Regions from separate parts of the Homo sapiens genome. Here region 1 is linked to region 2. Evidence: fine-mapped expression QTL. Tissue or cell type: follicular helper T cells. Region 2 holds a variant in brackets; the other region holds the start of a gene. All regions are shown on one strand. Distances are between the middles of the regions. Region 1 holds the start of RNF32-AS1 (RNF32 antisense RNA 1). Region 2 overlaps LOC102723795 (a long non-coding RNA gene).

What was found. PIP is the estimated chance that this variant, and not a neighbour inherited with it, causes the effect. A credible set is the group of variants that fine-mapping cannot tell apart.
Region 1: RNF32-AS1 starts here. The variant in region 2 is the best candidate, but not a certain one, in a credible set for the expression of RNF32-AS1 in follicular helper T cells (Schmiedel 2018, PIP 0.61).

The regions. Positions count from the first base shown.
Region 1 is chr7:156,657,672-156,662,067 of GRCh38, reverse strand. RNF32-AS1 (RNF32 antisense RNA 1) reads left to right here and starts at 2,109. Exons shown (of 3, transcript NR_189275.1): 1 at 2,109-4,192; 2 at 4,377-4,396. RNF32 (ring finger protein 32) reads right to left here. Exons shown (of 9, transcript NM_030936.4): 6 at 3,816-3,940; 7 at 3,498-3,606. RefSeq lists an enhancer at 3,727-4,396.
Region 2 is chr7:156,898,410-156,902,805 of GRCh38, reverse strand. All of the region lies in intron 2 of LOC102723795 (a long non-coding RNA gene), which reads right to left. Among named protein-coding and RNA genes, the nearest start is that of LMBR1, 7.4 kb to the right of the region's middle. The variant AAG/G (reference allele first, on the strand shown) is at 1,624.

The DNA of each region.
Region 1 (4,396 bases), 240 kb after region 2:
ATGAGATCTGAGTTTACAGATTTCAAGTGTTTATGGCCAAATGAGTTAAGTGAGCAAGAGTTACATGATAGGATCCCTATTCATGTAACAAATTATGAGTATAACCTCACTATGATCTGAGTGTGTGTGCGTATATGTATACATCTGTTCCTCCCCACCCCCACACTTGAAACTTGAATGAGGTAAGATTACAGTTCAGCAGATAACACGGTCACTTGTATTATGTTTAAGGTGGCAGTTATTGATAATGCAGACTGCTGATATCTACAACCCATCAGTGACCCATAACATTAATGTAGTAGGCCCAGCACTTTGGAAACGAAGTGGAATAAAAATGAACACAGTGTGGTGCCTGCAGTGAAAGCAGATTTTGCTTTGCGAAAGTTACGTTTCTGTTAACTGTATACATGTGGTGGGTCATTGCTGTAAGCTAAAAATAAAATCCTGGCCAGGCCATGGTGGCTCTCACCTGTAATCCCAGCACTTTGGGAGGCCAAGGCAGGCAGATCACCTGAAGCTGGGAGTTCAGGACCTGCCTGGCCAACATGGGGAATCCCTGTGTCTACTAAAAAATACAAAAATTAGCTGGGCATGATGGCGGGTGCCTGTAATCCCAGCTACTCAAGAGGTTGAGATAGGAGAATTGCTTGAACTCGGGAAACGATGGTTGCAGTGAGCCAAGATCGTGCCACTGCACTCCAGCCTGGGCAGCTGAGCGAGACTCCGTCTCAAAAAAAAAAAAAAATCCTAAGGCCCCCAGCAACAGAACGAACCCCCTCTTGGCCAAGGGGGCCCTAGGAAAACCTTAACAATGGAATTTCTGGCCACGATGGGAAGAAAGGTGAGATGCCCCTTATGCCCACTCCTTGCTGGAGTTTAAGCTGAAGTGACCAGTATTCCTTTAAAAGTGATAAGGCTGACGGCAGTCTGAGGCAGTAAGAAACCAAAGTACAAACAAGACCTAAGGCCATGCCCGGCAAGGGACAGTCATGCCGCAGGCCATCAGTCTTGCTGCGCAGCATCCTCAACTTAGAGATTCCCTTCTGCTGACTCCAGTATTTAGATAGAGCCCTACTCCTTTAACCAACTGCAAATAAAGAATCTCTGAATCCACCTACAATCTGTAAACCCCCACTTCAAGATATCACGCCTTTCTGGCCAAACCAATGTATAACTTCCATGTACTGACTGATGTCTTTGCCTGTAACTCCTGCCTCCCTAAAATGTATGAAACCAAACCGTAATCCAACCGCCCGGGGTGCACTTTCTCAGGACTCCTTGAGAGTGGGTTTCCTGGCCTGCAGTCACTCGTATCAGTCAGAGTCAACTTCTTTAAAATACTTTACAGAGTTTGGTTTTTCTGTCAACATTGCTTAGAAGATATTTCTTATTGTGGTTGAGGAAAAGTCTGAAAGCCACTGCCCTAGCCTATGGCTCTTGCCTATAATCCCAGCTAACTGGGAGGCTGAGGTGGGAGGTTCGCTTCAGCCCAGGAATTTGAGGCCAGCCTGGGCAATATAACGAAACCCTGTCTCTAAATAAAAATAAAAAACAACTTATACAGTTTGTTCTCAACTACCACCCCTGCAAAAAATAAAAAATCAGTTTTACTTATCAGTTTCTTCACAGATATTCAGCTTAAGTGAATTTGCTATTGAAATCATCTGAGATCATCTTAAAAGCCCCAAAGGAAAAACCACATTTGTAATATACAAGCTAGAATAGCATTCATACTTCTGTTCTTCTTGATCTCTTAGATGGTGTTGTTTAAACATACAATAGAGGTTTAGAGAAGACCAAAGAAATTGGAAGAAAGCTTCAGCTAGGCTTTGAAAAACTGGCACATTTTAAGCAAGGCAGAGGGAACCAGTAGGAACGGGCAGGACATGCGGGGGCGGGCAAGAGTGTGCTCAGAAAAGCAGACACGGGGATCAGAGCGGGGCGTTCCGAGCGATGAGGGCTCAGGACGAGGAGGCAGCAGTTGGGATGAACCAAGGATAAAACAAAAAACAGTATTTGTGGGGAGGTGGGATGGCCACAGGGCAGCGGACCCAACGTCCAGTGGGACAGAGCTATGAATCTGCCTTGTAAAGTTCCATCTCTCTGTGGGAGACACTGAATTAGAAACTGAGGAACTTGTTTGATCAGGTCTCCCTGCCCCGACTGCTCTTGGTCACTTGCTTTTTGTTATTTTTCGTTTCCTTTTTCCATGAAGCTGAAGGCTGCAGCATTTGAACACCTGAGCACTGAACGCTGAAACTTAACCTTCACTGGCTACTTTACAAGATAACACAAGGCACATTGTAATGGTTGCTTCACTTGTTTCCAGCAACCTGGGCCAGTTCTCGTCCAGTTCAATGGGCTGAGACCACCAACACTTTCAGTGGGCCTTTATCTTCAAGAGTTCTTATAAAATGATGTGTGCACATGAAAAATATTTATATATATAAGGTAAAATGACTATCAAATCTGTAATTAAAATTGTATAAGAGGTGACAAAAAATCACTTCTGATTTAAGAGACAACCTACTATGACATATTAGAAATTACTAAGAGTAGCCCAGAGAACACAACTGACTGTCAACGACTGAAGATAAAAAACTGGAAAGAATGTAAAGGAAGGATGACGCAATCGTGCATGGCGGTCCTTTACCAAATTGAGAATGAACACCCGAGACGAATGATCTCTGAAGATCAGAGACACTGCTCTCAGGAACAGAACACACAGTAACTCATCTCCATATTCTAGGAAAGGAGTTAATAGTGATAATAAATACAGAATTTCCAGCACCTACTGTGTGCTGGGCCATTATAAATGCTACAGCTCTTCTCAGGCCAACACTGCCAGGAAGAAGTGATGGCTTTCATATGACAGCCTCGGAGCTGCTGCTGTTTGCCTGAAGCCACAGGCTGATGGGGTAGGACTGTCCTTTTCATATGGGGACAAGGAATGGGAAATTGTTAAATAAGTCCCCCAAAAGTAAAACTAAAGCATAAATAGTGGTTAAGAGGAAGGGTAGACATGGAAGTTAGCTCTAAAGCTCATTGTGATGACCCCACGAGGTACTCAATACAATGGTAGCATGTGGGGGCTTTATTTTTATAGGCAGCTTCTATTTTCATTACTATGAGATGTGCAGCAGATGTCTTCATTTACATATAGCCCAGGAGATGGGAAAAATTAAGCTGGTTTCCAGTCTTGTGTCTGAAGAGATAAGTTTATTTAAACAATTAGCACAAAATGGCCAAACAGAAGTTGCTTTGATTTAACCTAATTTTATGATTTAACTAGAAAAGAAAGTCTAGAAGTATTTGAACATCTAGGTTGGAAAGCCAACTAAAGTTAAACAGGATTTTTAGCAGCATCTCACCCATTTTTAAAAAGCCCTCAAAGTGAAGTAAGTCTCAAAGTTTTACCACCTCTGTTAGCCTTCCTGACCCCAAGTGAACCACCCGCACGGAGACCATATCTGGAGAACATAATGATCTTTACCTACCTTTTTTTCAAAGAATTTTTTTCTTAACTTGGCATCTGTGGGAGGTACTGTTTTCCTCAGGTTTCTGTACCACTTTCTAACAACACATCCTCTCCAGTAGGCTTGGATTCTAAAACACAGATATTTGAAAATGACTAATTTATGATGACTCTATGTCAACCAATACTTCAGTAGTTGTTATAAGCCCTGTGCTGTACAAGGCCCTGGGGAAATTATGGTGGCCAAGAAGAGAGATAAAATCCCACTATTCAAAAAACAAGTTAGTTGTCATAGCCTGATCTGTGTCTGCTTAGCGCCAAACGGGCCTGGCGTCCTCACCTGGTCACACACTTGATTCTGAACAGGCGGGCCCCATCGTGTATCACTCGGGTTTGATACTGGTTCTTTCTACAGAGAGGACAGGTTTTCTTATTTGTGAACTTTTCAAAAGCCTGAAGACATGCCTGAAGAAAAACATTTCACTTAAAATTTTACAAGTAATTACTTATAAACAACGTTTTTACTTCCAATGTTAGTGTTCTAATTATAGTGTTCTTTTCTCCCATAACTATGAGACTTAGCCCAATTTAGGTTATAAAGTGAGGAGGCTTCATCAGGTGCTACCACCTTCCTCACAAAACCTGTTCCAAAAATGATTTCTTACAAGAATATACATGCAGAGACATCAAAAACTTCTGAAATCCACTAGCACAAAGGTGAGTCACGCGTGTGTATGGGGCCACATGCAGATCGATCATGTGAATTTAGCTGTCACTTTGACATGCATTACTGACAACAATCTGTTACATAAACATTTGTGGTTCTTTTGTCACAAAACTCATGATTTTCAAAATAGGATGAATTGTACTGCAGCCTACAGTCATGTTTCTTTAACTATAGATGGTGGTGATGAATAAAAT
Region 2 (4,396 bases):
TCAAGCTAATTCCAGTTTTGTGTCTACCAATTTCCTCTGATTAGTTCTTGTAAATCTTGATTCATGGATAGGACAGCCACAGAATTTCTTTGCAAAGTAAAGGTCCTGTCTTCCATTTTAAGTATCCTTTTAGTCTTTCATCCCCTGTGTAAAAGTTACAAGTTTGTCATGAATTCCTTAGAAATGTTGGGCCGGGCACGGTGGCTCACACCTGTTATCCCAGCACTTTGGGAGGCCGAGGCCAGCAGATCATGAGGTCAAGAGATCAAGACCATCCTGGCCAACATGGTGAAACCCCGTCTCTACTAAAAATACAAAAAAAAAAAAAATTAGCTGGGCATGCTGGCAGGTGCCTCTAGTCCAAGCTACTCAGGAGGCTGAGACAGGAGAATCACTTGAACCTAGGAGGCGGAGGTTGCAGTGAGCCGAGATCGTGCCACTGCACTCCAGCCTGGCAACAGAGCGAGACTCCATCTCAAAAAAAAAAAATGTTTAAGTATCGCATACATATATAACCCAATTTGTAAATATTAGCATAATCCATGCTTAGATCTTGGTTTTTAGATGATAACAATAATGGTGATGATGACGTTGATACTATTACTAACAGCCAACTTTTACAGTGTCATTGCACTTTGTAGGTTCTGTCATTTATTTATTTATTTATTGAGACATTCTCGCTTTGTCACCCAGGCTGGAATGCAGTGGTGGAAACCCCTTATAAAACCATCCGATCTTGTGAGACTTATTCACTACCACGAGAACTGTATGGGGGACCCCCCTCATGATTCAATTATCCCCCACTGAGTCCCTCCCACAACACATGAGAATAACGGGAGCTATAATTCAAGATGAGATTAGGGTGGGGACACAGCCAAACCGTATCACACCCCTTTCAGAAACCGACAAACATGTGTATGACTAGAAGAACTTCTGATTGGTGTAAAAGTAATCGATGTTTCTGAACTTAATTGTATTTTCATGAATTTAGAACTGTTTTCCTGAGAAAAATTCCTGTTTTCCCTTTAGTAATCCCCTTGATTCGCCTCTGCAGACACGTGGGATGACCAACCACCAGGTGAGAGTCTTGTCCAGTCTCCTCAATTTCCACCTTTTATCATCTGGTTGTTCAACATTAGCCCACAGTGTGAACATCTTCATTTGAGGCTCTTTCTAAAACGGTTGCTGGCTCCCATGGTGTGCTGTAATTACTTAACAACCAGCTCTTCAAGGAGGGGAAGGGGGCCCTGATTTGTTATCATTGACTGATTTCTGTGCTGTAAATACTCCCACTGTGGCCAGTTCTAGCTACCAGATGTACCGATATTGAGGGTGGAGGAGCACACCATTTTACAGCTGACGAAAGCGGCCTCAAGAGTAAAGTATAATAACACAAGCAGGACATGATGGAGTCGGAGCATTTATTACCTTTTAAAAATATAACTTAAGGCTGGGCACGGTGGCTCATGCCTGTAATCCCAGAACTTTGGGAGGCTGAGGTGGGCGGATCACTTGAGGTCAGGAGTTCAAGACCAGCCTGGCCAATATGGTGAAACCCTGTCTCTACCAGTGCACTTCAGCTTGGGCAATAGAGCAAGACTTTGTCTCAAAAAAAAAAAAAAA[AAG/G]AAAAGAAAAGAAAAAAAACAGGCCAGGTGCAGTGGCTCACGCCTGTAATCCCAGCGCTTTCAGGGGCTGAGGCAAGACGACTGCTTGAGTCCAGGAGTTCAAGACCAGCCTGGGCAACATGGCAAAACTCTATCTCTACACGAAATATTTTTTAAAAATTAAAAAAAAGAACAGTGCCTGGCAAATACTAAGTGCTCAGAAATATTTGTTATTTTAACTAAAAGATAAAAGCTTGAAAGGCAGAATGGCCTTAAAAATGGTGGTAAAACAAAAATGTTTGAGAAATGAAAGCTGGCATGACACCAGGCTGGAGTGTAACACATGGAATTTGTATTTCAACCCGTTTCCTTCCAACAAAGTGCAGTTGTGACCCTGTGTGGATGAGTCTCCAGTGGAGAGTGAAGCCAGGATGGTGAGGGGACCCGGGGCAAGGAGTGGGTTCAGAAGCTGGGAAGGCACTAAGTTCTCCTCTAGTGGGAATGGGGAACAAGGGGAAGAATGATGGGCTGGAAGTCAGCAAGTCTGGGTTACCCTGGTCACTAACGTGTGTCTCTTTAGGAAAGTCACTAAATTTCTCTGGGACTTAGTTGCAATAGGGCTAGGAGATCCCCAAGGTCCTTTAGGCTTCACACATGTGTGGTTCCTGACTGCTCCATAGACAGTCTTGCTCCTTCTGTGGCATAAAGAGGTTCAGTTGACCATTTGTTCCTTCTCTCGCCTTGCCCCATTTTGGCTCATTTCCCTCCTAAATTGTGTGTGTTGAAATTGGAAGAAAAAGAGTCAAGATAGATAAGTAAAGCTTAGGAAGATGATGTATGACTGAAGATGATGTATCATGAGCCAATAAAAATGACTGGAATCAAGGCTGGACATGATGACTCACGCCTGTAATCCCGGCACTTTGGGAGGCTGAGGTGGGTGGATCACCCGAGGTCAGGAGTTCAAGACCAGCCTGGCCAACATGGTGAAACTCCGTCTCTACTAAAAATACAAAAATGAGCTGGGCATGGTGGCGCACGCCTGTAATCCTAACTACTTGGGAGGTTGAGGCAGGGGAATCGCTTGAACCCGGGAGGTGGAGGTTGCAGTGAGACGAGATCACGCCACTGTACTCCAGCCTGGGTGACACAGAAAGACTCCATCTCAAAATAAACAAAATGATTGGAATCAATGTCTATTTATGATATTACCTTTAGAAAGTGTGCTAAATCTTCTCTCAGTTTGCTTAAGCTCAAGCAGTACCTTGTATAATTGCCTGGAAGGCGTAATGCAGTGCCCTGAGCGATGCTGAGTAGGTAGTAGCTCCCACAGGTAACAGCTGATGAGTTAGAAGCATGAGAGGCCAACCTCTCCCCAAGCCTATTAAGAAGAGAATAAAAACAGGGGTCCCTACTTGTGATGGTTAACGTTATGTGTCAGCTTCACTGGGCCATGGGATGCCCAGATAGCTGGTCAAACAATATTCTGTGTGTGTCTGTGAGGGTGCTTCTGGAGGAGATTAATGTTTGAATTGGTGGCCTGAGTAAAGCAGATGGCCCTTCCAATGTGGGTGGGCATGATCCAATCAGCTGAAGTCCTCAGCAGAACAGAGAGACTGACCCTCCCCTGAGTAGGGGGAGCTCCTCCTGCTTGAGCTGACACATTGGTCTTTTCTTGCCTTTGGCCTCAGACTCAACTATCAGCTCTTGGATCTTGAGCCTGCTGGCTTTCGAATTAGAACTTATACTTTGGTCTCCAGCTTGCCATCTGCAAATCTTAGGACTTCTCAGCCTCCAGAATCATGTGGGCCAATTCCTCATAATACATCTTTCTCCCACCCTCTCTTTCTACACCTCCACCCCCTAATTAGTCCTATTCCTCTGGAGAGCCTTGATGCACCATTCCCGAAACTTGAGGGGCAGAGAGTGAGCTTGGATTCATTTGTATGCTTGGTTGCATACTCCACTCAAGCACATACTCAAGCACACTCAGGACTACAGAAGAATTCAGTGGGGAAGGGGGGTGGGTTGTCAGGGCAGAATCTCCAACAGAGGGACCTGGATGTTTTACTATGTGTCATGCATGGTGATGCAATTGTTTTTGTTTTATTGCATGGCAGAGAGCAATGGAACTGTGAGAAAAGCAGGTGTTAATAAGTCAATGAATCTAGGTTCAAATCTTGATGTACAAACCAGGTCAGGTTGCTTAACCTTTCTGAGCCTCAATGTCTTCAATGGTAATATGGAGCTGACAGCACCTACTTCACTGGGCCACTGTGATGGTTAAATTAAATACTGCATGGGAAGTGCCTGGAATACAGTAGTTATTCCGCAAAAGCTAGCTCCCCACTACCGCCCCCCCCCCCCATTTACATGTATGACTCTTTATTCAGCAAAGGCTTATCAACCTGTTATCATGTGCCCGGCACTGTGCTTGGTGTTGGAAAAATAGTGAACAGGATAAAGTCTTTGCCATGACTAGGGCAGACAAAAAGCCTACCTATGTGTTAATAACTTTTTTTTTTTTTTTTTGAGATGGAGTCTTGCTCTGTCACCCAGGCTGGAGTGCAGTGGCGCGATCTCGGCTCACTGCAAGCTCCGCCTCCTGGGTTCACACCATTCTCCTGCCTCAGCCTCCTGAGCAGCTGGGACTACAGGCGCCCGCCACTACGCCGGGCTAAATTTTTTTTGTATTTTTATTAGAGACGGGGTTTCACCATGTTAGCTGGGATGGTCTCGATCTCCTGACCTCGTAATCCGCCTGTCTCGGCCTCCTAAAGTGCTGGGATGAC